Linked DNA regions of Homo sapiens: all the other regions are linked to region 2. Evidence: fine-mapped expression QTL. A gene starts in region 2. Each other region holds a variant in brackets. All regions are shown on one strand. Distances are from middle to middle. Region 1 overlaps STAM (signal transducing adaptor molecule). Region 2 holds the start of STAM (signal transducing adaptor molecule). Region 3 has its middle 18 kb from the start of TMEM236. Region 4 overlaps STAM (signal transducing adaptor molecule).

Evidence for each region. PIP is the estimated chance that this variant, and not a neighbour inherited with it, causes the effect. A credible set is the group of variants that fine-mapping cannot tell apart.
Region 1: its variant is the best candidate, but not a certain one, in a credible set for the expression of STAM in whole blood (INTERVAL, PIP 0.52).
Region 3: its variant is the best candidate, but not a certain one, in a credible set for the expression of STAM in lung (TOPMed, PIP 0.63).
Region 4: its variant is the best candidate, but not a certain one, in a credible set for the expression of STAM in T cells (TOPMed, PIP 0.57).

The regions. Positions count from the first base shown.
Region 1 is chr10:17,684,142-17,692,248 of GRCh38, reverse strand. It overlaps STAM (signal transducing adaptor molecule), which reads right to left. Exons shown (of 14, transcript NM_003473.4): 3 at 7,499-7,574; 4 at 7,322-7,417; 5 at 4,076-4,222. Among named protein-coding and RNA genes, the nearest start is that of STAM, 44 kb to the right of the region's middle. RefSeq lists an enhancer at 4,926-5,426. The variant TG/G (reference allele first, on the strand shown) is at 4,748.
Region 2 is chr10:17,640,629-17,648,735 of GRCh38, reverse strand. It overlaps STAM (signal transducing adaptor molecule), which reads right to left and starts at 4,585. Exons shown (of 14, transcript NM_003473.4): 1 at 4,357-4,585. The coding sequence starts at 4,396. STAM-DT (STAM divergent transcript) reads left to right here and starts at 4,818. Exons shown (of 1, transcript NR_110370.1): 1 at 4,818-7,452. RefSeq lists enhancers at 4,571-4,690, 4,841-4,910, 4,333-4,982, 4,983-5,631.
Region 3 is chr10:17,730,180-17,738,286 of GRCh38, reverse strand. No RefSeq gene overlaps it. Among named protein-coding and RNA genes, the nearest start is that of TMEM236, 18 kb to the left of the region's middle. RefSeq lists a silencer at 3,500-3,700. The variant T/C (reference allele first, on the strand shown) is at 3,833.
Region 4 is chr10:17,712,681-17,720,787 of GRCh38, reverse strand. STAM (signal transducing adaptor molecule) reads right to left here. Exons shown (of 14, transcript NM_003473.4): 14 at 3,964-6,245. The coding sequence ends at 6,008. Among named protein-coding and RNA genes, the nearest start is that of TMEM236, 35 kb to the left of the region's middle. The variant G/T (reference allele first, on the strand shown) is at 4,827.

The DNA.
Region 1 (8,107 bases), 44 kb before region 2:
GCGATATGAGTGGTTAAGAATGTAAGTTGTGGAGTCAGACAGACATGAGTTCAAATCCCAGATCTACCACTTTCTAGCTGGATGACACTGGGCAAATTAGCCTCTTGGTGCCTCAAATTCCTCATCAATAAAATGACTACGATAATAGCACCTACACCTCATGGGCACCTCACAGCCTATTTAAAGTATTAAATTAACACATGTGATTCCAAAATCAGATGAGATGGGCTCATTCAGGGTTTAAAACAAAAAGTATGTAACATTACCTCCGGGGCTTATAACGTATGTAGAGGTAATACACATGACAACTACAGTGTAAACAGACCTCTACAGATGCAAAGTTGCTATATTTTACATCAAATATTAACTCAAAGTAGATCATGAAAAGTTATGAATGTATATTGTCATTCCCAGGGCAAACAATTTAAAAATGAAATTCTAAAACACATTCAAATTGCCACATGTACAGCACTTAGAACACTGACTGGAACATTGTAACAGGCAATAATCTCAGCTTCTGTTATAATTGTCTGATTACATGTCTGTCTCCACAACCAGACTGTATGTTCCCTGAGGGAATGTGCCTAAATATTACAAGCAATCAATCAATGTTTGTTGAGGGTATGAAAGGAAAAATATTCAACATTATAATAAAATACAGTTCTACATTCCTCACTTAACTGGATTTCGTGTTGTCAAACAAATGCACAGGCATTTATTTATTTATTTATTTATTTGAGTCTCGCTCTGTCGCCCAGGCTGGAGTACAGTGGCGAGATCTTGGCTCACTGCAAGCTCCGCCTCCCGGGTTCACACCATTCTCCTGCCTCAGCCTCCTGAGTAGCTGGGACTACAGGCACCTGCCACTACGCCTGGCTAATTTTTTGTATTTTTAGTAGAGACAGGTTTTCACCATGTTAGCCAGGATGGTCTCGATCTCCTGACCTCGTGACCCACCCGCCTCGGCCTCCCAAAGTGCTAGGATTACAGGCGTGAGCCACCGCGCCCGGCCAGGCATTTATTTTTAGAAGAGCTGAGAAGAAAAAAACTTTTTGGTGTTCACAGAATACAACTTTAAACACTCTCAATTCTGACCTATCTCTAGTTGCAATTTTCTTTAGATAATGTTTTAATTATCAGACACTTCTGAAAACTACAGGTATGCCTGGTCAGAAATAAGTTTTACGGTTTACATAAATTTTTGTTCACAATTTGGCAAACTTCACAATTAGACAGATTTGAACTTTTATGGTGTGTGAAGAAATCTCTACCAGTAGAGAAGCGCAGAAATAAGCTATGTGAAGCCGCATGTTTCTGAACTGCACTTTTTATTCAAAGTTCCTTTCTATCATCAGGTTCTAAATGTAACAATAACACTTGTCTTATTAAGCAGCCAACTACGGTAGCGGTGCTGCTAGCCTACTTCTATCTTTACATCAAAAGTTAGTGCTAACAGAACTGCATCAGTATGAGTCAGGTGACTTTATCACTTTTCTTAATATTTTTACATTATTTTCTTCTGTACTCAGATGAAAAAAATATACTTAGAAAAATATATCTTCAGAGGTTTTTGTTAAGTATGCCCTAACAAAAATCTAGTCTGATGAAAACACAGTAATAACTTAAGTAACTAAGTGGCTTTAAAATCTACAGGGAGTTCTGCAGTTGAACTTAGATGATTTATTTTTTTCATTTAATGTGAAGCTCTTTACATGTAGGGTTTCTAATAAGCTTTTCAGAAACCACTAAAAAAATCATTCTACCTCATCATATTTTACTTTATATGTATTTCTTGTAGGTGAAATATAGCCACTATGACAAGATTAGCTGTTACATACTTTATAACATCTAGATCAAAGGATGAAAATTAAGTCCTATCTTTACTATTGCTCTTCTATGTCCTGAATTTCTTGAACAAGAGAATAAGCTAGTTTCTCTACCAATCAAGACATAATGCTCTTGCCAGCATTCACTCCACTGGAAGCCTGGTCTAGACAGACACATATTCACTAACCTCTCTAACAAAGAAGGCAGACTCGGGCAGCGAAAAGAACACTGGACTGAGAATCAGCATGCCTGTGTTCTAGTTCCAGCTGTCAACTATGAGCTGTGTCCCTGGGCAAGTCACTTAACCATTCTGAGTCTCAGTTTCCTCATCTGTAAAAATGAGCGGATTAGATTAGAGGCTCCCTAAAACTGTTTCCGTGGCTAAGATTCTAGATTAACCAAACAAGGGTACATATGGCACAATCATTAATTCTTCCTTTTCTTACAAGAGTAAGTCCCTTTGTGGACTGAAACGCAGTTTTCACTTGCACTGAAGGCTGTCCTCTAGAGCAGCAGTGCTTCTCAGACCTCAACGTGCATATAAATCCTCTGAAGATCTTGTTAAAATGGAGATAATGAACCCATAGGTCTGGAGTGGGTTCAACCATGCTGCATTTCTAACAAGCCTCCAGGTAATGCCAGTGATGCTGGTCAAACCAAGTTTTGAGTTAACAAGAACCAAAGACTCTAGATATTTAGTGGGCTTGCATTTTCTCTACCTATTCTAGGTGGGTTCTCTGCAGTGAGTCTACTCTTTGATAAATAAACATTGTTTCTGTTGTCAAGGAATGTATAATGTCTTGGATTATTCTGTTTAAGATTTTTCCTTAATTATACAGATTCTAGAAACTATACTGAGTAGTAAAAACCAGCTATCAGTTATGAATGAATGAATTTTCAAAGACATAATTTTTTTAAGAAAATTTTAAACCAAAATTTTTTTAAGAAGAAGAATGTCCTTTGCTTCCTTCCTCTCCCAGATACATTTTTGAGTCTTCACATCTCAAGAGTGCTCAGATAAACTGGAAATGCCTTGGGAAGAAAGCACATGTAGGTCTGGATGAATGTAGATAAGCTACATGACTCCCTGAAGTGGTCAAAACATAAGCCCCTCCACACTCACAGATTTCTGTTCATGGTTTCACATCACTCATTACAGTCTGTCCCAGTCAATAAACTGGGGAAAGACAGTGTAGTAAATCAGCACATATTTTAAGCCTCTTGATTAGTTGGGCATCCTAAAGGAAGGTTACCCAAAATAGAAATAGGAATAAAAAAGACATTTCTTGATTTTTTTCTACATGACATAAATTAGAGACTGAATTTTTTTGGCACAAGGGTGGACAGGAGAGCAAAGTTAAGCTATTTAGCCATATCCACTGGGGAAAGGAAGACTTATGTACTGGTCGGCTCTTACTAAGGAGAAAATGCTTCAGGTGCTTCTCTTCCCATTTACCCCTTCTAAAGTCCTCTCATTGTTAATAGAGGAATTCATAAATTTCCTCCACAAAAGAATCTCTCAAGTCATCCCTAACTTTTAAGGATATCCTGATTTCTGAGCTATCATTCTTTGTAGAAAATTATAGCATTAAGAGCATTTAAAAAGACAGTGTTACCTAATTAATAAAGCTATTTTGTGTATATTATTAAAACTGTACTGGCTGGGCCTGGTGGCTCACACCTGTAATCCTAGCACTTTGGGAGGCCGAGGCGGGCAGAACACCTGAGGTCAGGAGTTCGAAACCAGCCTGGCCAACATGGTGAAACCCACCTCTATTTAAAAAAAAAAAAAATTTCCAGGTCTGGCTGCACGTGCATGTAGTCCCAGCTACTCAGGAGGCTGCGGCAGGAGAATCACCTGAACCCAGGAGGCAGAGGTGGCAGTGAGCCGAGATCACGCTACTGCACTCTACCCAGGGCGACAAACAAAGACTCCGTCTCAAAAACAAACAAACAAAAACTATACCAAAAAATTTCAAAAACTGCAAAATGTTAAACCAATTCGTTTATAAAGAAGTAGAGAGGTTAGAGCACATTAATATTCCATTATAATACTTTTCTGGCACCTCTGAATGCCAGAAAACTAGTATTACTAACTAGCAATACAACTAGTTACTAACACAATTAGCTAACGAAAATTCCTCTGAAGTAGTAAAAATTACCTGGGAATGAAGAAAAAAATTCAAATAAATATAGCTATTTAAGAGAAACAAACTGTAGCACACACACAACTTCATTCCCAAAATACCTGAGAGCCAATAGCTGGGAACGTAACTCCTTGTTCCTTAAGGTTCTTAATCATTGCTGATATTAGACTAAGCTGTGGATCATTCTTAAATTCATCTGTCCATTCAACCATAAGAGCCTTTAATTTTTCACATACTTTAGGATGACCCTGTAAAATAGAAAAAGAAATAAAAGAGCACCAATTTCCTAGCCAATGATTTAATACAGACATTTTAAATAGTAAAGTTATTAAGTGATGTTTTTTGAATCACAAGTTATGCATAGCTATAGACAAGAAAATATAGTTATTCGAAATAAAACTAATGTTCACACTATGAAAAAACCCATCATATATATCTCACTTCAAATTAAAGCATTAAATAGGTAATAAGATTTTGGAGATCTGAAAGGACTTTTCAGAATATTTTGCAACGAAGCAAGGTTTGTACATCAGTAAGACAAGGAAAAGTGTCTGCTTTTTGCAAAGCAATAAAAAAGTGGGAAGGAGAGAATAAATGATACAGTTCCTTTATTCCAAATTCCTGACTTCTTAATGTTCATGACTATGCATTTTTTCCATGATGCTTAATTATCTGGGGCCTAGTTTGAGGTACACTGCATGTTAATCATTTTGAAAATTTAATTTCTTCAAAATAACATAACTTTTTTTCCTTTCTTTTCTTTTCTTTTTTTT[TG/G]GTTTGTTTTTTGAGACAGAGTCTCACCCTGTGGCAGAAGCCGGACTGCAGTGGCTCGATCTCAGCACACTGCAACCTCCGCCTCCCAGAGGGGGGTGGGGGATGCGGTTCAAGCGATTCTCTTGTGTCAACCTCCCGAGTAGGATTACAGGCGCGCACCACCATGCCCAGCTAATTTTTGTACTTTTAGCAGACGCGGGGTTTTACCATGTTGGCCAGGCTGGTCTTGAACTCCTGACCCCAACTGATTCGCCCGCCTCAGCCTCCCAAAGTGCTGCGATTACAGGCATGAGCCACCGTGCCCAGCCCAAAATAACATAACTCTTTATGGTTGATGTATAACAAAGATTCAAGTTAGTCTAAGGCAGGTGTGCAGGGCATTATTCTTCCGTATTAAAGAAAGAGATAAATGTAGTGAGTTTTCAAAATAAATTATTTTACTCATTGCTTATTAAGGGAAAAAACCTGGCCAGTTCATTAAAATACTGATGTATCTTCATAGCGGCAATAATTTGAAGTCTTACTATTTGATGTAATAGATATAAAGAAACCTTCACAGATACCAGAGAAGAAATAACTCCTCTATGAAATGTCATGAATGTATTTCAAACCAATGCTTACTAAATAATTGGCTAAAGCTTTTAAAAATGGAGAAGGTTAGACTTTTAGATTACTCTATTAGAAGAAAAAAAATTCTTTCTAAGTGCACATGTAATCTGTATTTTGGTCAAGGAGCATATAATGGATTTGCAAACGCTTTATTGAGACTATACATGAACTTAATTTGTTTAATAAAAGGAAATTTTTTAAAAGGGCAGGATGTTGGCTGGGCGCGGTGGCTCATGCCTGTAATCCCAGCACTTTGGAAGGCCGAGGTGGGCAATCACAAGGTCAGGAGTTCGAGACTGGCCTGACCATCCCCATGGTGAAACCCCATCTCTGCTAACACTACAAAAACCAGCCAGGCGTGGTGGCGCATGCCTGTATTCCCAGCTACTCAGGAGGCTGAGGCAGGAGAATCACTTGAACCCGGGAGGCAGAGGCTATAGTCAGCTGAGATCACGCCACTGTACTCCAGCCTGGGTGACAAAGAGAGACACTGTCTCAAAAAAAAAAAAAAAAGGCGGGATGTTATTAAGTACAAAACCAATATGTTCACTGTAAAACATTCAGAAAATAAAGAGAAGTCCTCTTGCCTATAGGAAGTCGTTTTTGGAAATGGCTGCTTGCACTATTATACATAGGTAAGTATACCACATTTTTCACCTACATTACAAAAAACATGGTATTAGAATCTCTTCATAAACAGTTGTAATCTCGATGGACATTCAGGACATTAAAAGACAATGTTTATTAATTAGTAGAAAATAAATATTAACTGCATAAAGCAGGAAAGGGAAAGAATTATCATTTAACCATGATGTTCGAAAAGTACAGAATTTTACATTCTTACTATATTTCTATACTGCTATTTTTCTACTGTAACCTGGAACTATTCATTTTTCCCAAAAACATGAGGCATTTTCCCTTTTAACATACAAAAACTTTTTCTTGATTTACAGTACTCCCCCTAAAAAGGCCAAAAATAATTACTTTTAGAATGCACAAATTTTTACTGGGGAAACTCACATATTACTAATTGAAAATTGAAAAATTTCTTGAACTGTGTGACTAGAATTCTACAGTTGAGTGGGCAGTTGTAGGGTCCCCAGTTCTCCCTGCTTTCTTTCTGTGTCCCAATAGAAAAACAGAGTGCCTTGTCCCGCTCTGTGACCTAGCCAGCTGCATGTTTTCCACCATAGGTTTGGACCCAAACTGGGGCCTTGAACATTCTCAGGCACTGATAAAGTTGTTCAGGTTGTGGCCCAAAACACTAAAAGATCAAGTATGTTGCTAAACACACAGAAACCAGCCCCAACCCTGAGCCAAATTCCTTAAACCCTCCTATAAACTGCAGCCCTCCTGTGTAAGTTCCCCTAATAAATCCTTTAGACTGATCACCCTGGCATTTAGTGCCTCTTTTTTTGGACTCTCATCTGGCCCTATCTGGAACAGTTTGGGGCAGTCCCTTGTGGAAACTCCCCCGCCACCACTTTTGAGGCAACTCCAGCTGTGGGTTCAGCCAGTAAGAATAGCAGTATAGTATTAAAATCCTGTGATGGCCAGGAAGCAGCCTTATTGATAAAGATAAAAACTCAACGGTGCCATAGACTTTTTGCAGTGTTTCTGAAAGGTTTTCCATTAGGAAAATACCTTGTGCCTACAAAAACAGTATGTAAAATAGACTGATATTATTTAATTAGATATAGAAATACCTGTTTTCTTATCAGATGAAAGTATGATGGAAAAGAACAGGTTAAAAACACTCTAATATGGCTTGAAAAAACTAACTCAAAGTTACATGAATCCGCAGTCTCTTCAACAAAACATAATATTTATTTATATACTGGATAGACACAGCCTAGAAAGGATTTCTTAAAAAGCACAGAATAGTCCTCTGTGAAGATTTAAACAATAAAATATGTGAAGAAAGAAGACTGCCTTAATTAATTTCTGGAAATAATGCTCCTTACCTTATTTAATACGTTGCTTACTTCACTAGCAAAATCTCTTGAACATACTTCTAAATGAAAAATTTTGCCACAGTTTGATACACATGCTCCTAGAAGCTAAAAGCACAAAATCAGAAGTTAAAGGGGCTCAATTGTGGCAGGTAATTTCGTGGTACAGATTAAAATGAAACCACTCACAGTCAAAGCCTGCATAGCAACGTGAGGATCTTTGTGGTTCACTCTTCTCATAATAGACCGAAGACAATCCTTAGGTCTAAAAAAATGAGAAAAGTAAAAATTACTTAATAATACATCTAGCTTCCCCCTGCCCCTTAACTGTTATAGACAAAAGACTACGATAAAAAGGGAGACTATGATAAAGTAGGGAAATTTAATTTTTATTAATAACACGGTTGAAAAACTGTAAACTAGTTCCTTTAAATTTTTCAAACAAAATTAACAGGCTCTCTTATTAGTAATCGTAGATGAGGCATTTCAGGCTAATTCTGGGTAGGAAAAAAAAAAAGGTTTGAAAATAAAATGGTAGGCCATGACTTCCACTTCCAGCCAGGGTGGAAAAACAGACCAGACTTACACTCCCGTTGTAAACAATTAGAAAACTGGAAAAACAGATTTTCCACACTGAGGTTAACTTTTTAAAGACATGAGGCCACAGGCAGTACTGAATGATAATATCCAAGAAGGAAAATGAATTAGATAAGCCAGAAGTTTGCCTCAACTTTCTGCCTAGAGGCACTTTCCAAGTATCAGTGAAGACCTTCTGAAAAACCCACGCATGCACAGGTG
Region 2 (8,107 bases):
AGGCAAGAGTGGTAACAAAGAAACCTACCAGAAGGCTCTTGCCACTGACTATAAGAGATAACAATGACTGAAGTAAGGTAAGAATGGTGAGACAGAAAAAGGTGATGATGTGTCCGGAGTTTGTTCCCTCTGGTGGGTTTGTGGTCTCGCTGACGTCAAGAATGAAGCCACGGACCTTTGTGGTGAGTGTTACAGCTCTTAAAGGTAGCACGGACCCAAAGAGTGAGCAGCACCAAGATTTATTGTGCAGAGTGAAAGAACAAAGCTTCCACAGCATGGAAGGGGACCCGAGCCGGTTGCTGCTGCTGGCTAGGGTGCCCAGCTTTTATTCTCTTATTTGTCCCCGCCCATGTCCTGCTGATTGGTTCATTTTACAGAGTGCTAATTGGTCCATTTTACAAACCTCTAGCTAGCTACAGAGCACTGATTGGTGCATTTTACAAACCTCCAGCTAGCTACAGAGCACTGATTGGTGCGTTTTTACAGAGCACTGATCGGTGCATTTTACAATCCCCTTGTAAGACCGAAAAGTTCTCCAAGTCCCCACTTGACCCAGGAAGTCCAGCTAGTTTCACCTGTCAATGAAATTCTGGATATATTTTTAAAGTACAGCCAAAATATCTTGCTGATAGGATGAATGTGAAGTGTGAAGAAATAAGAAGAATCAGTGATACTCCTAGACATTGGAGCTCAGTGACAGGAAACAGTAATCATGTTGTCGTCTACTGAGAAGGGCAAGGATGAAGGAATGAGCAGGTTTGGGCAAAGAACTAAGAATTGAGTTTTTGAATGTTTGTTTTTAGACTCTAAGCAGAATCCAAATGGAGATGCTCAGTAAGGAGATGGATATCTAGGTCGAGAGCTCAGGCAAGAGGCTGAGAGTAAGAACATAAATCCAGGAGTCACCAGAATACGCTAGGTATTTAAAGCTAAGAAATTAGATGAGGTTCTTTTTAAAATCTTACTTAATAAAAAGTACAGAAATTTTTCTAAGTGCTTTACAAATATTAACTCAACCCTCTTAACAACTCTCTGAGGTAAGAACTATTATTACTCTTATATTCCATATTAAAGATAAGGAAACTGAGACACAGATTATCTAAGCAACTAGGCCAAAAATCACACTACCGGTAAGCAGCAAACCTGGGACTGAATCCAAGCAGTGTGGCCCCAGTCTGAATTCTTAACACTAAGCTAAATTGCTTCCTAATACTCTAAGGGAAAAAAAAAAGTGGAAGGAGAGAAGAGGCTCCGGAACTGAGCCGCAGGGCACTCAACTTTTAGAAGTTGCAAAAAGGGGAAGCAAAAAAATTTAAAAGGAGCTAAGTAGAAAATGAGAAAAAGTTTGGTGTCCTGAAATCCCATGAATAAAATACTGTATATCAAAGAGGAATGCTTAAGAGATCAAAAAAGAAATGGACTAGAAAGTGACCATTGGATTTGGCAAGGTGGAAGTCACTAGAGACTTTGAAATACAAACTTGATGAAATAAGTTATCTTTACGTTTCTTCTAAATTCAGCTCTTGAATTATAATGTCCAAAATGAGATTCATTTATTCCATAAATGTTTACTGAAAGTTCTTCAGCATGCCAAAAACTGGTCTACAGCTAGGGATACGGCAGTGAAAAAATCAAACAAAAATCCCTGTCCTCACAGAGCTCACATTCTAGTAACATCTTTCGGTGTTTCTTCCAAGGGAAAAGCTATCACCAGCATTGTGTCTCTTTATAAAAAATGTTATATTATATAAATCAGTCAGTGAATTTCTGATTCAGCCTCAGATTAAGACTGAAGACAATTAATTTTGAAGATGTGCAAATGTATACGAGTGTTAAGTGATAAATAACTGTATCAAATGAGTTACTTTAATGTTATGACATATTCATTGGTAGATATGGTGAAAGAAAAAATTGTTAAGTGTATTCTATACACTGTATTCTATATGTTATACTATTAAAAAATAATATGAGTCTACTGGACTCTGTGCAAGGCTTATGTACTGGGAATCTCTGAGGGGTCTTCTTAGATAAACCTTTTGTAATATTTCAATACAAGGATTGTGAGAAGAGAATTGGTCCAATACCAAAACCTGAGCAACTTTAAAAAGTAAGCTTTTCTGGAGCAAAACAATGTTGCTACACTGAAGAAGTATAATGTCTGGCAGGCTCAACTGACACATTCTCAACTCAACAAACATTATTAAACACCTCCTATGTAGCAACCTCTCATTAAGGAGTATAAAACTATCTTGAATGCTAAATAATTCGGTAAAGGCAAAAATGCTAAAATAAGTTAGAGGATTTTGTAAGAAGGTGGAAATTAGAGTGGACTAGTGCAGCGGTTCTCAACTGGGAGGTATTTTGTCCTTCCAGGGGGCATTTAGCAATGTCCTGAGACTTCTAAAATCATGAGTGGGGGCTGGGTGTCACCGGCATCTAGTGGATAAAGGCCAGGGATAAGGCTGAACACCCTACATTGCACAGGACAAACTCCTATGACAAAGATATTTACCTGGCCCAAACCGTCAATAACGTTGCTACTGAGAAACCCTTTGCTACAGTAATCAGGAAATGACTCAGGTGTAACAAGTTGGATTCTGAGTTGGCCTTAACACACAAGGATATGTTGAAAGATAAAAGAAAGCATAAGCGTAGGACAAAAGCATAAAGGCAAGAAGGTGCCTGTGTTTGAACTGGGTGGTACAGCTACTAGGAACGGGTTTGACATTAAGAAATTTACCTGAATCCAATGCAAATATGTGTTCACAAAGTCAGTAGAATATAAAGGTGATTGGGTAGTTGCTAGCTAAATTATACAGGACCAAGAAAACTAGACAAAGGTGCTGTAAACAGAAGAAGCAAGTATTAAGAAGCTGTTTTAAGTATTTCCCCTAGAGATTCATGTAGTGAGATGTAAAACTGCTTGAGAACAGCAACTAGGCCTTGCTCATCACTGTATCTCTTATGTCACTGAGCTGCTGTGTCCTGTAGTGTGTGCTAACTGCTTATTAAATTAAATGCAATTTTCCAATTCATTAAGTATAATCGGTGATCTCCAAGGTTCTGTCCACTGCTAAGATTCAGGACACTCATTTAAGGTGGAACAAAAAAGGTAGCATCTAGTAAGTGCCAACCACATAAAGGTACTGTAGCAGGCCCTCTAGACATATTATTTAACTGCAGAATGGAATGATGTGTTTTCCCCTCTTTAAAGACAAGAACACTGGAACTCAAAGAATTTAACTTGCCTATGATTTCACCGTGAGCTGAGAAGTGGCAGAGGTAAGGAGTGAACTTTTTTCTACTCTTATATAAACTTCCAAGTTTCAGTGACATGCTCTAAGGAAGAGTTTAAAAAGAAAAATTCAACATCCACCTTTCATAATTAAAATACACAAAGACAAGTAAATTCATAAGGTTGTCCTTATTCACAGTAATGATTACATTCTGCCATAAGGGATTTGGAAATGGTATTTGGCTTGCTTTCATTCCACACTTGTGTGCCAAGGTAGTTCCTACGTGCGTTCAAATTAAACCAAAATTCTCTCCCCGGAAACTCAAATTCCCATAATTATTATCTTCAAGTCAGAAAAAAATAAAATAAAATAAAATTAAAAACCAAAAGCAAACCTATTGAATTGACATCATCAGTACCTAATACCAGTGATTCAGAAAACAACAAAAATGTAGCATTTCAAACTCTTTCCAGATTCAACAACTTCTTCCACACTTCTTTACACCTTTTAAAGTGCAGAGACCTAGCCTAAGAGAGACATCCCAAAGGCTCAGGTCCTCAATTCGGTTTCAGTCGTTGCCAAGTATTTCATCTTCATCGCTCCTAACATGTTTGAGAGTCTACCCTTAACCAGAGCTCCCTCCTTCAGTTACCGTTACAAAAGATTTTAAAATCCTCTAAGGAACCTTACCTAAAACATTCTGCCAGTTCCAGACGCTCAACATTTATTTGTCTAGGCAAGCACTTTTGGTACAGGGTTTACAATCCTAATCTAGCCAACATACGCCTTAAGCCCTTCGCTGTTCTTCCAGAAGCACAGTCCCTGCACCAGATGCTACACCAGCTGCTCCTCCCAGGCCCTTTACACCAACCCATTCAGCAGTTCTTTGGCAACCTACAGTCCTAGCTCAAGGCCCATTTCACAGGATGAGTCCCATTTCTTTCAAAGAGGATGCGCCAAGCCCTCAACCTCCTCCCAGCTCTGAAGGAGGGAGCCTCAGGAAAGGGGAAGAGCGAGCTCTTCCTTGGCCCTGGCCCGAGGGTCCTGAATGCAGGCAGGGGCTGGCAGAGTGAGCGTGCAGTCCGGTGAGGAATGGGCAGGGAGAGGCAAAAACACTTACCAACATCCTGATCGAAGGGATTGGTGGCAAAAAGAGGCATCTCCGCTGCGTGCCGAGGTGTCCCCGGGGACTCCCTCTCGACAGCACGGGAGTCAGAGCTCGACGTAGGATGGAAGACTCCTCAGGCAAAAAGAGCAACAGAGACCGACTCTACAGGGTCCGCGACAGCTCCTCCTCTCACCCAACCCCACCAACCGCGGCAGCAGCTGCGGCGGCGGCAACAGCAAGGAGCCGAGGAAGCCCCCGCGCGGAGCTTGTCGGGAATCTGGGCGACCTTGGCGCTGCCTGTCTCAAAGCTGCCCCGAGCCTGCCCCATCGGTAAAGGCTGAACAGGGAGTCCCCTCTGCCTGACTCCTCTTTTAATTAGTCACACATAAGAGTGGAATTAGTTCTTGTGTTTTCTGCTTTTCCCTTGGCTAGGAGTCTCCGTAGGACGGGGTCCTTCAGGCGTGCTGAAGCCTACTAACAACCCCAGGAGTGACTGGGAGAGCCAGGAGAAAGAAAGCAGGTTGAGTTCGGGTCGAGCTGTGCGCCTTTTTTCCTCTCGCTCTCTCGGTTATCATAACCTTGTATTCCCTCTGGAAGGAAATGGAAATTCCTTTGGATCATCTTCTAGGTAAACAGTTTAATTAGCTGCGTGAGGTGACAAACTTGCTCGGATGAAGTCATGGGAGCTGAACGAATTGGCCTGAATCCCAAGAGGGGAGTGTTCAGGGCGCGCGTGTCCCTCGGAGAGGCTGAGGTAACGCTGGCTCCTTCCCGGGAGTCCCTGAACGCCCGGCTTTGGAATCTGCAGACAGCTCTTCTAGCAGGGCGTTGGCACCTACTGACTAACCGTGCAATCACTCAGCAGCTGTGATGGTTGGTGACATGTCTTTCACAGCCCAAGATAGCCTCCCTAGACTGAGCAAAAAAAAGAAAACAGAAAAAAACTGGAGCTAAAAGTTGATCAGTGAGTGATTCCTAGCAACCCAAAATGTTGGTTTATTTATTTTACTTATAAGTTTAGTTAACCAATAAAAATTATTCTCTGTGTGATGGAGAAGTTTTAAGGAGCATCTACTAGAGATGTTGCGTCCCACTTGGAACAAACTTAGTAAGCACATCTTGTACGTAAATGGAAATTATCCCGCAAATTACGGCATCTCCAAATGTAGCGTGGAAACTAATATTGACATGTCAACACAGGATTAATACATAGTAATCAAAGAGTGCTTAAAAATTCATTAAAAATGAAGTCCCACCTCTAAAAGTGAAATGTGCAAATTAAAGTAGCAGTTAGATAATGTTTTGTCATTTAGGTAAAAATTACAAAGAATCGGCCGGGCGCGGTGGCTCACGCCTGTAATCCCAGCACTCTGGGAGGCCGAGGCCGGCAGATCACCTGAGGTCAGGAGTTCAAGACCAGCCTGGCCATGGTGAAACCCCGTCTCTACTAAAAGTACAAAAAATTAGCCGGGCGTGGTGGTGCGCGCTTGTAATCCCAGCTATTCGGGAGGCTGAGGCTGGGAATCGTTTGAACCCGGGAGCGAAACTCCGTCTCAAAAAAAGAAAAAAATTGCAAAGAATCAGGGATGTGAGGAGTCAGACACTCACATACTGTTGGATGAAGTGTAAATACTGTATAATCTTCCTAAGGGAAATATTTGGAAGCATGTAAAAAAATTTTTAAAACCTTAGGACCCAGCAATTCCATTTCGGCAAATTAATCCTAAAGACATTCTTTTAAAACATGAACAAAGGTATACATGGCAACATTGTCTAAAGGATCAAAGCATTGCCAGCCATTAAATGTCCCACATTGAGTGATTGGACAAATTGCTTCACCTCTTGGTGTCTCAGTTTCCTCATGTGTAAGAAACAGGAATAATAGGGTTGTGAGGATCAAATGAATTAGTACAAGCAAAACGCTTATTACAGTGCCTGGCATAGAGTAAGCACTAAATAAGTGTAACTGATCACTGTAATTTACACTGGTCAGTTAAATCATAGTACATAAGATGTGAAAACTACACAGCCATTTAAGGTGCATAATACAGATTCATATTTACATAGACATCTGAATACACAAGTTTTCAGAAGGAAGTTACAAACCTTATAAAATTACAAATGCCCACAATTTTAAAAATCTGAAAGGAAATACATGAGAATATTATGACATGATTGTCTCTGAGTGGCAAGATTCTAGACAATGTTTTTGTTCTTTGTGCATTTTATTATTCAAAATATTTTAATGATGAGCGTGTATTCCTTTCAAAAGCAGAAAAAATGTTAAAATACAACAATGTCAAAAATGGTATGTTGGTACCACCAGTTTCTTAATGTTTTGAAGGGCCAATACCAAAAGCGTGCTTGTGTTTCATTATGACAAGTATAGAATTATTCGGAAATATCACGACTGATACGGAAGTCAGAACATTCCCTCTCAAAAATGTGCTTTGATTGCTGGGCTGACAGAATTAGGTGACAACTTGTTTACCTTAAGATCCTGAGCAGTGTCTTGGGCCATTATCATAAGTGCCTGAGCCAGATATTGGTGGCTCAGACTGGGTGTATCAGAGCCAGATATTGATGAAAATGCATTTGTACATGTTCTGTACTCCGGACTGAATTACTCTGTTGCCAGCAATAAGCCAGGGCACAAACTGTTCAAGCCTTGATTATCAATATGTGTGCACTGGGAGTAATACATACTAGTATTGAGAGCAGTATCCGTGCATTCTGACCTAGAATGACTTTAGCTGTGGGGGCAGGGGGGTCTCGATGATTAATGTGCTGTATAAATAATAAACATTTTTTAAATATAAAATTTTTAATATTTAACTTAAAAGACAAACATAAAAAGTGAAATGCTTTGTATTTTGTGGTTAACGTCCCTTATTATCCCTTTAAAATACTGAAATTCTATGAGTTTCACTTTTAGTATTACCACAGTTTTTAAAACGTTTTGAAGACTACATATCAATGGCATATTAAAATGTTTCTGTAATGTTGTATGTTTAATAAATTCTGTGGTTGTTTGTTAAATGTTATATCCCTTTATTCTCAGTTTGATTTTGAAAATTCATCTACATTAAAAACAAAAATACTGGCCAAGTGTGGTGGCTCATGCCTGTAATCCTAGCACTTTGGGAGGCTGAGGCAGGTGGATCATCTGAGGTCAGGAGTTTGAGACCAGCCTGGCCAACATGGCGAAACTCGGTCTCTACCAAAAATACAAAAACTTAGCTGGGCGTGGTGGTGGGCAGCTGTAATCCCAGCTACTCAGGAGGATGAGGCAGGAGAATCGCTTGAACCTGGGGTATGGAGGTTGCAGTGAGCCGAGATCGGGCCACTTCACTCCAGCCTGGGCGACAGAGAGAGACTCTGTCTCAAAAAACAAAAAAAACAAACAAAAAAACAAAACAAAAAACAAAAAACTGGTGTGCAAATAGAGTTACTACACGAAAAAGTCTATAATTTTCAAATTCAGGAAAAAGAATATCCTAGGAAGGTTTTTAACAGTTTAATAATTCCAGCCCAAGTAGGAATGATTACTATTTCTCAGTCTTTCCTCTTCCTCTGCATTGTCACTACTTTAGTTTATACCCTCATCTCTTAGGCAAGTTACTACATTCACCTCCTGCTGTCTTTTCTCCTTTCCTACAGCTGTGGACTGAATTGTATCCTCAAAAATACAAATATTGAAGCCCTTATGCCCAATGTGATGGTATTTGGAGACAGAATCTTTGGGAGATAATTAGAGTTAGAT
Region 3 (8,107 bases), 90 kb before region 2:
GCGGGGGTGGGGAGGCACCTGCTAATTATAGCTTTCCAGTCCCATCCCAGATTGACTCAATCAGAATCTGCAGGCAAAAGGCCTGGGAATCTGTATTTTACCAAGTACCCCTCTGATGTCGTTTGGAAAATAGAGGACTTGGGCATCTTTAAAATCCATATGTCAGGTTAAACATTTCACAACTCCCGGATTTTTATGGGCCTATTTCTATTGGTAAAGGCCTGCAGTACTCTATTTCTTGAGGGTTGCTAGGAAAATGGCCCCTCAGGGGCTCACTTCTGATGCTTTCAGAAGACGTGGCTCTGAAGTTCCCTGCATCTAATTCTCTTCTCCGGAAAATTCAAATTGAACCATTTTAAAAATCTTGATCCACATTATAATTCATTATGTGAATCTCTAACAGAAAATTAAGACATAAAGGCAACAGCTACCCCTTGTCTAGCATACGGCCTATAGCATGACCATCCTTCTAATTCTGCGGAGAAACATCAGCCCCTGCTCTTTAATTGTTGAGAAAACCCAGAATGGTCCACATATTAAGGAAATAAAATTGTAAAAATCGGTGCATTCCAGATGTCATGAGAAAACAGTGAATCATAAATGAACTGTCCTGCAGCGTTATGTTTTTTCCCAAATAATCTGTCTGAAGTCTAGATCATCTTCCGTTAAATGGCTAATTTGGATTTTTCAAGAGTCAATCTCAGCAGCGCCACCTACTGATAATTTAAATTCAGTACTTTATGTAAATTCTTAGCAATGTACACAGCAAATTAACTCGAAAGAACCTAGAACATGTTTTGGGTTTTCATAAAATAATAGGCATGGTAATATAACTGCCAGAGGAAAAATTTAATGTTTTTGCAGGTGGTGAGCTAGACAATGCCTGCTTCAATTGAGTATGTCTCCAGCATGCTGGCTCTCCTCCACTTCTCTCCCTGTCCTCAATATTTCCCCATCACTCTGTATTCGAGTTGGGTTTGGCCAGTGAGAGGACTGGCAGGAGGCCAAAGGGCAGCAGGAGAAGCGAGGGTGTTGATTCCCTTGTCCCTCTTTCCCACTCACTGTGCCAGTTTCAGCTCTGTCAGTCCATCCCTCCTCCTAGGCCCAGCAATCACTGTACACACTTGCCGCTGAACGCTTGCTCCTTTGGGCCCAGGGTGGTGACAGTTGAGGGTGTCTGTTCCCTTGGCCTTCAGTAAGTAGTTCTTTCAGAAAAGCCTGTCCCCTGAAGCTCCTGAGTGTGATTCTCCAGGGCTCTGGAGACCCAGCTTGCATACGGTGAAGTGGAACTGGCCACCCACTCAACATTTATAAAGTGAATATTGCAAAAATGATTGCTCCTGGTGTAATAGCAGATAATAAAGATTCCATTATTTTCTGCGAGAAGCTTAAATTTACACACATGAAGGGGATTAGGGTTGACAAAAACCATTTTTAAGGGATGTGATTCAGCATAACTACTTAAATTTCTATACACAATTTTATTAATCTTAGGTATTGAATAGGTAGAACTTTGGACCAAGTATGTCTCTATAGTTCCCCGCAGAAGTCTGACCTAGTTTACTACCATCAGGTTAGAACGCTAAGGTTTATTTAAACAATCTTAAATAAGCAAACTAAAAACCTGGAACCAATTCTTTAACCTACACTTAATGTAGACTTCCACATTCTAATGAGACATTCTTACATGCAAATGCTTAATCTGGAGTCCTCCTGTGGGACACGCACACACACATGGAGAGAGAAAAATACAAAATTCTCCATTAGTGCAAGACCCTGGAGAACAAGGACCTGATTCATTCTCCCCTGTGGCCTCCAGCATTCTCAGGAGGGGCTTCCCACACAGCAGAGACTGAATCAATTGTTCAGTGACAAGATGGGAGACAGCACACCATGGCGGACACAAGCACAAAGGTTGCCTAGGTTTGTACCCCAGCTATGCCACCTGCTGGATGAACTTGGGCAAATAATTAATCTCTCTGTGCCTCAGTCTCCTCACCTATGGCAGGGGGTTATTAGTATCATCCTAGTTTCAATGAGTTATTTGAAAAGCACTTAGACTGGTGCCTGTCCCATAGTAAGGACAAGATAAGAGCATGTTGAATAAATAAAGGGATGGTATTTTTCACATCACCTGGAGCCACTGTAGCTGGAAGGGCCTTTAAGAGAGATATAATTTTTTCATTTTATTTTATTTATTTAAATATTTATTTATTTATTTATTTTTGAGATGGAGTTTCACTCTTGTTGCCCAGGCTGGAGTGCAATGGCATGATCTTGGCTCACTGCAACCTTCGCCGCCCAGGTTCAAGCAATTCTTCTGCCTCAGCCTCCTGAATAGCTGGGATTATAGGCACGCACCACCATGCCTGGCTAATTTCTGTATTTTTTTTTTTTTTTTTTTTTTAGTATAGGCAGGGTTTCACCACATTGGCCAGGCTGGTCTTGAACTCCTGACCTCAGGCGATCCACCGCCTCAGCCTCCCAAAGTGCTGCGATTACAGGCACGAGCCACCATAGCCAGCCAATTTTCTCATTTTAGAGATAAGACTGAGGCCTAGAAAAGGTGAATTCAGTAAGCCGCTGCGAAAGGTGTGATCAGCTCACTCCTAGGAAGATCTGCTTGTTGATACACATATTTTATAAATCAATGGGAATAATTTTATCCGACAAAACAAAAATCCCTGCCCCTGACCCTAGGGAATGAAAAAACATGGGCTTCCACCCCTATTCTGGGAAAGGTTTAGTCATAAGTGGATTAACTTTTGTTCCACAAGAAACGACTTTTTGACTTTATTATTACTATCCAACACAACTGTCAAGACCTATGAAGGCAAGCTGAAAAGTCAGCCGGCCACAGTTCCCGGAATGCTGACAGAAGGCACAGAGGCATGGCTCCAAGACAAAGAACTACGCTACTCACAGCGTTAGCAGGAGCCAGAGTATCATTTCCTGTGCCAGTTCCTCAAGCACAGGGAAGATAAGAAGGGCAAGTGACAAGGGCAAAGGCAGTGAGCTGCAGAACAAAACAGGAGCCCTGAGCTCCATCTCTCAGTCTTTCATCACGGTCAGCCTGCCTGCGCTTTGCTCTAAAGAGAGACACTAACTCCATCTTCCAAGGATGTAAACAAACCTGTCCCTTGCTCCAGAAGGAGACGCTATGTGTATCTCCCAAGGTTGTGTGCCATACAAATATCCTGGAAAAGACGGCCTAGAAAAAGCACTGTCATTTTCTCTGCTTGCAAGATGTGCAAGAACTATGGAGGATTATCTCCCAACCATTTCTACCTTTCGCTTCTACATCATTAAGTTTTTGGCAAATTTTTCCATGCATACGCCGATCCGTCAGCCACTATGATTAATCTGTCTGACAGAGGCTGGGGCCCAATCTGTTCCATGGCACATTTAATTAAAACTACCACCAACACACTGCAAGCAGTAGGATAAGGCCAACTTCAACCATGCCCCAGTGGCCTGGACTCAGCCACTTAACTCTCACAAACAATGAGTCTACCTTCAAAAATCAGATGGACCTGAACTTCCTCTCCCTGAAGCAGACCAACGTAGGATGAAAGTAATCATCACCAAGGACAGTCAGCTAATCAGCACCAAAGCCGCATCAGTCAGCATCTGAGAAACAGCTTATTCACGGGACCAGGATACTTAAGTGACACCAACTAAGATTCACTCTCATCAGCAGATTTCCCTTTGGCTAGATTACCTTTTTATCACCTCCCAACATTTTTTTGTTTTGTTTTGAGATGGAGTCTTGCTCTGTCACTCATGCTGGAGTACAGTGGTGTGATCTTGGCTCACTGCAACGTCCACCTCC[T/C]GAGTTCAAGAGATTCTCCTGCCTTAGCCTCCCGAGTAGCTGGGATTACAGGTGTGCACCACTGCACCCGGCTAATTTTTGTATTTTTAGTAGTGTCGGGGTTTCACCATGTTGGCCAAGCTGGTCTTGAACTCCTGGCCTCAGGTGATCCTCCCGCTTCGGCCTGCCAAACTGCTGGGATTCCAGGCGTGAGCCACCATGCCCAGCCTTCCTCCCAACTATTTTAGGTTTGGGAGTACATATGCAGTTTTGTTACATGAGTAAATTGTGTCAGGGGTTTGGTGTACATTATTTCATCACCTGGGTGGTGAGCACAGTATCTAATGGGTAGTTTTTCGGTCCTCACCCTCCTCCCATCCTGCACCGTCCTTTTGCTGGATTTCCATAGTTCTCCATGTGCCCCAACCCTTCCGGGCCACGTGTTTTCTATTGCTGCATAACAAATTACTACACATTTAGTGGCTTAAAACCACCTACACTGATTATCTCACAGTTTCTGTGGGCCAGGAATCTGGACAGGGCTTAGCTGAGTCCTCTTCAAGGCTGCGATCAAAGTGTTGGCCAGGGCTGGGTTCTCCTCTGGAGGCTCGTCTTGGGAAGGGTCTGCTTCCAAGCTCAGCCTGCCGGCAAAAGCATGACGTAATGTCAGCAAGGAGTGATGGCCCATCGCATTTGCCATAGTCTATTGGTTTTCAGCAAGACACATGTCCTGCCCATACTCAAAGAAAGGGAATTAAATAAGGGTCTGAACGTCACAAGGAAGGGCTCATGGGGACACACTCCAGAGTCTGTCTGCCACAGACACATTCTTTAGAATCATGACCAGGTCCTAGAAGCCACAGTCCAGTACTGTCCAGGAGAAACAGAACATCAACCATGTGTGGAATGTTAAATTTTCTAGCACCCATATTAAAAAACAGTGAAAAATACATACACTACCATACTATTCTATGGATGCAATGGTTACCATGAAATATAGTCCCACCAAAACAGCTTATGAAATAGCTTACACTGCTGGTTTTTAAGTTTAAATTAATTCAAATGAAATCAGATTTAAAATTCAGTCCCTCAATTGCACCAGCCCATTCCAAGTGCTCAACAGTCCAAATGAACAGTGAGGTCTTAGATCCACCCTCTCTTTAAAGCAGGAGGCAATGCTTCAAATATCCCCTGGGTCAGGCAAAAGAGTGGTGACAAGATGATCTCCTTGACCTCCTAAACCTCTTCTCAGGCTTCGATCTTGGCCACCGTCCTTGCCAGGCCTGCACAGCCCAGTTTTAGCAAGAATCCTGCTAGGTCAGTTTAGAGAGAAGCCCTCCTGCCTTGAGATCTCATCAAATCCCTCGTCCTCCACCCTGGCTATCTGATCACCCTGGCCTGCTCTTAGCAAGAATCCTCTCTATCCCCGAGGTCTCCTCTTAGTGATTTTCCAACCATGAACTACTCCCCTCCACCCTTGGCTGTAAGTCCCCATCTGTCTTTACTGTATTCCACTGAGCCCAGTTCTGGACGCAAGTCTCTTTTCCCTATTGCAATAGTTTCTGTATAAAATCTCTCAGGCCGGGCGTAGTGGCCCACGCCTGTAATCCCAACACTTTGGGAGGCTGAGGCAGGCGGATCACCTGAGGTTGGGAGTTTGAGGCCAGCCTGTCGAACATGGAGAAACCCCACCTCTAGTAAAAATACAAAATTAGCTGGACGTGGTGGCACATGCCTGTAATCCCAGCTACTCAGGAGGCTCAGGCAGGAGAATCGCTTGAACCCGGGAGGCAGAAGTTGCAGTGAGCCGAGATGGTGCCATTGCACTCCAGCCTGGGCAACAAGAGCGAAACTCCATCTCAAAAAAATAATAATAAATGTCTCTTTACTGCTTCAATAAGAGTCCATCTCTGATTCTCCCCAACAGTTGGGAGGGCTCAGTAGCAAACTGGAGACAGCATGGATAGTTGTGGGAACACAGGCCTCACGTTGTTAGATCTGGGATTTTTCTTTTCTTTTCTTTTCTTTTTTTTGAGACAGTCTCACTCTGTCGCCCAGGCTGGAGTGCAGTGGCGCTATCTCGGCTCACTGCAAGCTCCGCCCCCCGGGTTCATGCCATTCTCCTGCCTCAGCCTCCCGAGTAGCTGTGACTACAGGTGCCAGTCACCATGCCCGGCTAATTTTTTGTAGTTTTAGTAGAGAGGGGGTTTCACCGTGTTTGCCAGGATGGTCTCGATCTCCTGACCTCGTGATCTGCCCACCTAGGCCTCCTAAAGTGCTGGGATTACAGGCGTGAGCCACCGCGCCCGGCCTAGATCTGGGATTTTTCAAGGAGCCAAAAGTCTGTATTTTTGGTGGGAAATCACGTAGACATAAAATATCATCTATTCAAAAAACATTTTTTAACTCTCTGCAGGCCAAATAAAACATGTCAGACTGATCTGGCTAAGCCAGCAGAGTTTAACCTCAGCTTTAAGGTACCCATCTCCTACTTTGGTTCCTTCTCTACTATTTTGTCAATTTGAATCACACAGAGTGATCTTATTTCCTGAAAGTTTTGGGGAGCTACAGCACTGCAGTCTTTAAGAAATGACCACACACAGGGAGAATCCCCCAGGACCAAGGCCTCTCCTGGGCAGTGGGCGTTCCTCTTCCCCAGCCTGCCCCATGCCATCCCACCTATCCTTGCTTCCTATTTCACTCAAGGGACAGTTTGACAGGGAAGCAGGAAAGCAGAAGATCTCTTTTCTCATCAGGATCTTTCCCAACTCATAAATGTCCAGAAGAAAACAGAATATATTTTCCTGATTAGTTATACTCATTCTTTTCTATATTTGCATCTTCCCCCAGTTAAGAATGAAAAGCAAGACAGGGCAAACGTTTACCTAGTTTACCTTGGTGCTTCCTACAGCAGAATTAAGATAAAACATGCCATAAAACTGATGGAATCATAAGGAAATGGAAATCATAATGAAATGAACGTTGACTTTGAAACCCTGGGAGAGCATTACAATGAAAAGATTGTTTAATGAGGCATTTAGAGGCGAGGAAAATGACCACCTTCCTTTCCCCTGTCCCCCTCCCCACCAAGGGCCCTGCTCCAGTAACTGGTTGCTCAGCTGCCTCTAAGGATGGGTGTTGGGCTTCGGATTCCTCAGGTGGATATACAAGGTGTAGCCTCTCAGAAAAAAAAAAAAAAAAAAACAAATTTAAGGATTATCATGATAAACAGGTATCAAATCAGCCTGCCTAGGGCCTCTATCCGTTACAGTTCAGCCTTCAATCCACTGGAAAACCACAAAGAGTTGCTTCAGGGAGAGAACAGGAGGAGCTGAGAAATTGTCTTTAGTCTTTCCATGGATCAGGTAAAGCTGTCAAAGTGGAAAGAAGGCAGGTAGATTTATCTCTGGGACTCCCAAAAAAGGATGACAGCATACTGGCCTAGACGAGGTATTCTGAGGGTAGCGATGAGAAGCCCCACCGCTTCTGGGGAGGTGGAGGAGCCTCAGAACCCACGGATGGCTACCAGGAGATGTGCCCCTGGCAGTCTCCCTTGGACTTGGTGTGCCTTCCTACAAAGCACTCACGGGGTATGAGCCAGACATACCAGTAACACTACGCTACATTCTGGTTATATCATAGATTAAATGGGGTTTGGACCCCAGCCCGGCATCCCAGTCACCAAATTCAGCATTGTTCTAAAATGTTTCCTAGAACTTACTATGTTACAAATGAGCTTGTGGAACACGTAAATGAGGGAAGACTTGTGCAAAAGATCTTCTAACATAGTGTAACAATTAAATTTTAACACTAGAGTGGGCTCATTGCTGTTTCCTTATTGTTCATTTTTCAGTAAGTTTACATGTTGATATCAAAATGAACTTGTAAAAAGTCCTGGATTCAAGTTTTCTGATTTCTAAAGGTACTTAAATATTTAAATAAATGCCTGACATATTTAGTGCTATGAAATGTAAAACTTAAGAAGGCAGTTAGTGTATCTTAAAAATAGTGTAAACACTTAAGCAAATGAAGACCAAACCATCAACAGTTAATAAACAAAAATAAATTAAGGACATAATGGCTGTGACCACTTATCTCAAAAAGTGATGTTTATCCTTAATTTTCTTTTCTTTCCCTGTTTTTTTGGGAGAGGCAGGATTGTAGGGCATATAATTTCTCACAGGCTTTATGTGTTTTGTGTTTTCTTACCGGGTTTACAGGGCATTTAATTTCCCACAGATTTTAAGCATTTTAAGCAAAACACATAAAATAATTATTTGAATCTAAATGTGTTTA
Region 4 (8,107 bases), 72 kb before region 2:
AAAAGACACAGACTGGCAAATTGGATAAAGAGTCAAGACCCATCAGTGTGCTGTATTCAGGAAACCCATCTCACGTGCAGAGACACACATAGGCTCAAAATAAAAGGATGGAGGAAGATCTACCAAGCAAATGGAAAACAAAAAAAGGCAGGGGTTGCAATCCTAGTCTCTGATAAAACAGACTTTCAACCAACAAAGATCAAAAGAGACAAAGAAGGCCATTACATAATGGTAAAGGGATCAATTCAACAAGAAGAGCTAACTATCCTAAATATATATGCACCCAATACAGGAGCACCCAGATTCATAAAGCAAGTCCTGAGTGACCTACAAAGAGACTTAGACTCCCACACATTAATAATGGGAGACTTTAACACCCCACTGTCAACATTAGACAGATCAACGAGACAGAAAGTTAACAAGGATAACCAGGAATTGAACTCAGCTCTGCACCAAGCGGACCTAATAGACATCTACAGAACCCTCCACCCCAAATCAACAGAATATACATTTTTTTCAGCACCACACCAAACCTATTCCAAAATTGACCACATACTTGGAAGTAAAGCTCTCCTCGCCAAATGTAAAAGAACAGAAATTATAACAAACTGTCTCTCAGACCACGGTGCAATCAAACTAGAACTCAGGATTAAGAAACTCACTCAAAACCGCTCAACTACATAGAAACTGAACAACCTGCTCCTGAATGACTACTGGGTACATAACGAAATGAAGGCAGAAATAAAGATGTTCTTTGGAACCAACGAGAACAAAGACACAACGTACCAGAATCTCTGGGACACATTCAAACCAGTGTGTAGAGGGAAATTGATAGCACTAAAAGCCCACAAGAGAAAGCAGGAAAGATCCAAAATTGACACCCTAACATCACAATTAAAAGAACTAGAAAAGCAAGAGCAAACACATTCAAAAGCTAGCAGAAGGCAAGAAATAACTAAAATCAGAGGAGAACTCAAGGAAATAGAGACACAAAAAACCCTTCAAAAAATTAATGAATCTAGGAGCTGGTTTTTTGAATGGATCAACCAAATTGATAGACCACTAGCAAGACTAATAAAGAAGGAAAGAGAGAAGAATCAAATAGATGCAATAAAAAATGATAAAGGGGATATCACCACCAATCCCACAGAAATACAAACTACCATCAGAGAATACTACAAACACCTCTACGCAAATAAACTAGAAAATCTAGAAGAAATGGATAAATTCCTCAACACATACACCCTCCCAAGACTAAACCAGGAAGAAGTTGAATCTCTGAATAAACCAGTAACAGGCTCTGAAATTCTGGCAATAATCAATAGCTTACCAACCAAAAAGAGTCCAGGACCAGATGGATTCACAGCCGAATTCTACCCGAGGTACAAGGAGAAACTGGTACCATTCCTTCTGAAACTACTCCAATCAATAGAAAAAGAGGAAATCCTCCCTAACTCATTTTATGAGGCCAGCATCATCCTGATACCAAAGACTGGCAGAGACACAACCAAAAAAAGAGAATTTTAGACCAATATCCTTGATGAACATTAATGCAAAAATCCTCAATAAAATACTGGCAAACCGAATCCGGCAGCACATCAAAAAGCTTATCCACCATGATCAAGTGGGCTTCATCCCTGGGATGCAAGGCTGGTTCAATATATGCAAATCAATAAATGTAATCCAGCATATAAACAGAACCAAAGACAAAAACCACATGATTATCTCAATAGATGCAGAAAAGGCCTTTGACAAAATTCAACAACCCTTCATGCTAAAAACTCTCAATAAATTAGGTATCGATGGGAAGTATCTCAAAATAATAAGAGCTATCTATGACAAACCCACAGCTAATATCATACTGAATGGGCAAAAACTGGAAGCATTCCCTTTGAAAACAGGCACAAGACAGGGATGCCCTCTCTCATCACTCCTATTCAACATAGTGTTGGAAGTTCTGGCCAGAGCAATTAGGCAGGAGAAGGAAATAAAGGGTATTCAATTAGGAAAAGAAGAAGTCAAATTGTCCCTGTTTGCAGATGGCATGATTGTATATCTAGAAAACCCCATTGTCTCAGCCCAAAATCTCCTTAAGCTGATAAGCAACTTCAGCAAAGTCTCAGGATACAAAATCAGTGTACAAAAATTACAAGCATTCTTATACACCAATAACAGACAAACGGAGAGCCAAATCATGAGTGAACTCCCATTCACAATTGCTTCAAAGAGAATAAAATACCTAGGAATCCAACTTACAAGGGATGTGAAGGACCTCTTCAAGGAGAACTACAAACCACTGCTCAAGGAAATAAAAGAGGATACAAAGAAATGGAAGAACATTCCAAGCTCATGGGTAGGAAGAATCAATATCGTGAAAATGGCCATACTGCCCAAGGTAATTTATAGATTCAATGCCATCCCCATCAAGCTACCAATGACTTTCTTCACAGAATTGGAAAAAACTACTTTAAAGTTTATATGGAACCAAAAAAGAGCCCGCATCGCCAAGTCAATACTAAGCCAAAAGAACAAAGCTGGAGGCATCACGCTACCTGACTTCAAACTATACTACAAGGCTACAGTAACCAAAGCAGCATGGTACTGGTACCAAAACAGAGATACAGATCAATGGAACAGAACAGAGCCCCCAGAAATAATGTCGCATATCTACAACTATCTGATCTTTGACAAACCTGAGAAAAACAAGCAATGGGGAAAGGATTCCCTATTTAATAAATGGTGCCGGGAAAACTGGCTAGCCATATGTAGAAAGCTGAAACTGGATCCCTTCCTTATACCTTATACAAAAATTAATTCAAGATGGATTAAAGACTTAAACGTTAGACCTAAAACCATAAGAACCTTAGAAGAAAACCTAGGCATTACCATTCAGGACACAGGCATGGGCAATTTCCATAATTTTTATAGTTGCATAGTTTATCGTGTAGGGTGCTAATTTGTCTCACATCAACTTGAAGCTTCGGAAAAAACATGTCTTCAAACTGAATTATACATATCGCATAGGAAAGCTGTATGTATCAGAGAAAAAAGACACTGGTCTATTAAGCATTTTAAATACAAAAACTATGAGGTATAGAAACAAAGCACCAGAAGTACATGAAAAAAGGAATCTTAGGCACATAAAAAGTTCCCTCGCTGCATAGGGAAGATAGGTAACAGTGAAGGAGAAAGACGGAGTTAGAAGAGGCTGTAAAGTCACATTAGGTATGCATTAGAAATCCTCTTACAGGTTCAGGGCACTGGTATAACATCACAGGCCATGGGCCTGTTGGCTATATATGCTAGTTCGTAACTGGATTAGATTTTTTCCATTTACGTGTCACTATTTTACGGAAAACCAATCTCAAATTTTATTTTTTAAAAAAAGAGAAATAGAATTTGCTTCACAGCAGTTTACATTACAGTTATTTATTTCTCACTCTGTCTCCCAGGCTGGAATGCAGTGGCGTGATCTCGTCTCACTGCAACCTCCGTCTCCCAGGTTCAAGCAATTCTCTCGCCTCAGCCTCCTGAGTAGCTGGGATTACCAGGTGCCTGCCACCACGCCCAGCTAATTTTTGTAGTTTTGTAAAGACGGGGTTTCACCATGTTGGTCAGACTGGTCTCGAACTCCTGACCTCAAATGATCCGCCCGCCACGGCCTCCCAAAGTGCTGGGATTACAGGTGTGACCCACTGCGTCCAGCCTATGTTACAGCTAGTTCATTTTATAAATTATTCTATTCCTTCAAAATAAGGACAGCTATTAATGAAAGATTTCTTGAAAGTGCAAGACCTGCAGGTTTCAGAACTTAAAGTCATTCATGATCCTAACTGGCCCCCTCCTATTTCTACCCTCGTCTTGTCATTTGAAAGACAAGCCAGTGCTTCACTTTCATTGGATTTTTTCCCCCTGGTATTTTCATTTTTAATAATGGGAAGGCATAAACTAACACAGTAACAGTTTTAAAGTACTCATCATTTAAACCTTTATAAGGCTAGTAATGTAAAAGGTAAAGAAAAATGTATATGGGTTGTAATAAGGGTAGTTTTTTCTATTCACTGTTACTTGACTTTTATAGGGCAAAAATCATAGTAGAGACTATGTCATTGATTTTCAGCATGAAAGATATCAAAATTAAAATGGGAAAATGATACATTTAACATTGGTAAACAGGAATTTATCAAAAGACAAAGAAAAATTGCAGAAAAGTATATCAGTTAAACCATAATACTCAAATTGGAGTGGAAAAGATTATAATCCGACAGATATTTATCAAAAACTAACTTATAGTATTTAAAATGTGAAATTTGACTTCAGGGCAGGGCAACATATTTTAAACACAGGAAATCAGAACACAACACTTGAGCGAAACACTTAAGTTACCCTTAAGTAATCTTACAGGTGACTAATTTCACAGGCTCAGATTTAAAACTACGGTGCTTTAAATCTGAGTCTGTGAAATTAGTCACCCTTAAGATTACTGGCTAAAGATTTAATCTTCTCTCAAAAAGAAAATAAACAAGCTACCTGATTACAACAGTCTTAGAAAATAAAAATGAAATTTTCATTTATAGTATGAAACCTGTTACATCAATTCATTAAATATGATGTTCGACTCAACTTTTCCGTTGTTTAAATAGTGCTAAAATAATAGTATAGCCCAACCAGGGAAATCGTAAATATTTAAGATTACAATGTCAGTGGAAAACATTTTTCGCATGAATTAAAAGAAAAGCATTCATTTGAAAATATTCCCAAGTAAGAAGCCAAAATAATTCCATTAGAATTTTAAAAGGCCAGAAAGAGCAACCCAAAAATCCAGT[G/T]TGAAAGAAAACAATACCTATATAAACGTTAAGCAAAGCCAGGAATGTAGATTACTTTGAAACATCTACTTATTTCCATTTTAATGAAGAATTAAAGGATACAATGTGTTAAAGACATATTTAAAATACTAGCAAGGGATTAGACAGACGAATCAAATTTTGTTGATATCCCAAATAATTACAAGAGACTTCGAAAATGTAGTGTAATTCAGGTTTTCTTTCCAGTTTAAAAATTTCTATCCATTGCCTCTATCTTTGGTGTCACTGCCACCAATAAACACAGTATACAGCTTAGAAACCTAATTACTATCTTCAACTAGGAAAAGGTAAACCAACATCATTTCTTTAAAATGAGAAATAAAGAATGTGATCGTACTTAATTTTGTCTCATGGTCCCACAATACTCTGAAATGTCATGCCAAAATGTAAAAGTTCAAAAGGGAACATTATCATTTGCTATAATTGCACCAAAAATTTAGCTACTGTACGCTGGTGTGATGACAGCCAGTAGTATGCAGAGGCTACAGAAAGACATGTAGATATATATATATACACACACATATATATATATATCTCTTTAGCTCACAATTAGTAAAAGGTTCAGTTTAATGTGAAACTGAAACACACGACAACATAATGCGCCTTCATGTAAATACGCTAACAACTTTGTTTTCTTGAAGTTTAAAAGGATAGTATAATTACCTTAAATTTACACAAAACATTAAGAAACATGGTAGTTGTTTATGATTAAAATAAAATAGCAACGTAAATTAATTTAACACAGTGTTAAATATATTCACACGATCACCACTGTGATTCAAAATGGCCACTAATGCAGTTACATATCAATATATGTACATAACATTTGTCACAACAGTTTTTGTAAGTTTGACTTTCTGCAGACCAGGTTTACGAGACAAATAGCCTTGTATCAATTCTTTCATATTATGAAAGGAATTAAATGTTGTAAGTAGTTTCATTCCTCTGCAGGGGCGGGGGGGGAAGAACCTCTAAAAAGTCAGTGTAAATTGAGGAGAGTTCTACCTTCTTGAATATTTGAACCTGTTGACCTGGAGAGATTCCTATAAGCTGAGGATAAACACATCTTAAGATAGTAATGAATCTCATAACATTGTCAGTGGCATTTAGCAGGTATCTGCCACCAAGAGGAACACCGGGTCCTATAGCAGAGCCTTCTGAGAATATGGTTGCTGTGGCTGAGGTGGCTGTTGGCTGCCTCCGGGCTGAGGCAGAGTTGATGATGTTAAGTTATAGTTTGGCACCTGGGGCATATTAGGTCCTGCATTCTGGTACAGAGTGACATCGGCAGTTGCAGCAGCAGCAGTAGCGGCAGGAGGAGGACTATATACTGGCGCCTGGCTGGGATATGTGTTTCCTTGAACGGAACTGACCATTGTACTGTGGAGGAAGAAAAACACTCAATTACATCAATACTGATTTATAGAGCAACTACAGATAAATGGAAAAGCTATTTACTAAGCATTCATTCATATAGTCAATTCATTTAATAACCTTTTACTAAACAGCTATAATGTGCCAAACATTGTTATTTTAGGCTTTGTGATATCAGGCATTGCATTAAAAATATGTGTGTTATTTAACCATTGTGTAAAAAAAGTTGGGGGGGGTGGTTTGCGGAAATAAGTCTATACCACCATGGAGCGTCTGTTCTAGTGGTAGAAAAGGGTAACAAACACATGTATCGTGTGTCAAGTGGTTCTAACTGGTAAGAACAAAAACAAAGCCCAATACGGAGGACAAAGAGCAGCTGGGGCAAGGGATTCTAGTTTATGGTAGGGTGCCTCTCCAATAAGGCAATACTTAAGCAAAGATGTGGAAAAAGTAAGCGAGTGAGCCAGATAGATTCCCTAGGAAAGTACATTTCAGGTAAACAGAAAGAAGCCTTTGAGGAGAGAAAACACCAAGCATGTTCAAGGAACAGCAGGCCACGAGTGCTGCGGCAGAGGGGGCCGCAGGGGGTGCCGAGGGGAGAGCAGCTAAGATCACCGGCAGGACTGCGGTGGTGGGGAGGGGGCTGGAGAACACACAGCACCTGATGGCCACAATAAGGACTGTAGCTTACACTCTGAGTGAGACAGAAAGACACTGGCTCGTTCTGAGCAGAAGCGTGATAAGATTCCACAGGGTTTAACGGGCTCCCTCTGGACCAGGATAGCTGACTGCAGGTTATTACGATCCACCAGGAGAGAGCCGACCAGCAGAAGAGCCACGGCAGTAATGGTGGAGATGGGAGAAAGGGTCAGAGTCTAGATAGATTTTGAAGATAATGCCTTCAAAATATGATAATGAACAGAAGAGTCCAGAATGCCTGAGGTTTAGAACCTAAAAACTGGTAGAAATAACTGGTAGAGTGGCCATTCACTGATTTTCAGAATACTATGATGGGACCATAGTAGACTCGGGGGTGGGAGGGGTGTGGGGAAGATCAAAGTAATAATCTTGGATCTGTCAAGTTTGATGTCCAAAAAACTGGCAAGCAAAGAGAATGCATAGGCAGTCAGCTATTCAAGCCTGTTGTCCTGCATAGGCAATCAGCTATTCAAGCCTGCTGTCCTGTGGGGAAGTACGGAGGAGAAATACGCATCTGGGAATCCTCGGCAGATCCACGGCATTCAGAATCACCGGGCTTCATGAGGTCCCCTGGGGAGCGGCTGCAAACAGAGAAAAAGGCAGTCCATCTACTGTGCACTGGACCTTGAAGTCCAGAAGATAAAGAGGCAAGAGGCAAATGAGGCTGAGAAGAAGTGGCGGTGAGGCAGAAGGGAAAAGAGAATGGTCACCAGCAAGTGAAGAAAGCATTTCAGAAAAGAGGAGGGAATCACGAACTGTCAAATGGAGGAGGAGGAGAATGGTGAACTGACCGGGAGTCTAGCAGTATGGGCATCACCAGGGTTCTTGACAAGAACGGTCCCAAAGGACTAGTGGAAGGGAAGGCCTCATAACCTCATTTCTTTTATTTCCTTGAAAATACGGAAGCACACGCTCCAACACCACACTGATCAACTCTCTGCAGCTGCACCCCTCACGTACTGAGCTTCCCTACCGCTCCCACCGCTCCGCTGCCAGTACTCCCATCTCAAGTCCCTGCACTTGTGCACTGCTCCCATTAAAAAAAGAAAGAAAAAAATTCTTCAAAGGGTTGTCTTTATCCACTGCCTCTACTTCCTGTCTTCCTGTTTCCAACGGAATACATGCGTTTCCACTGTAAGACACTAGGTTAGCTATGTGAAGAGAAGTAC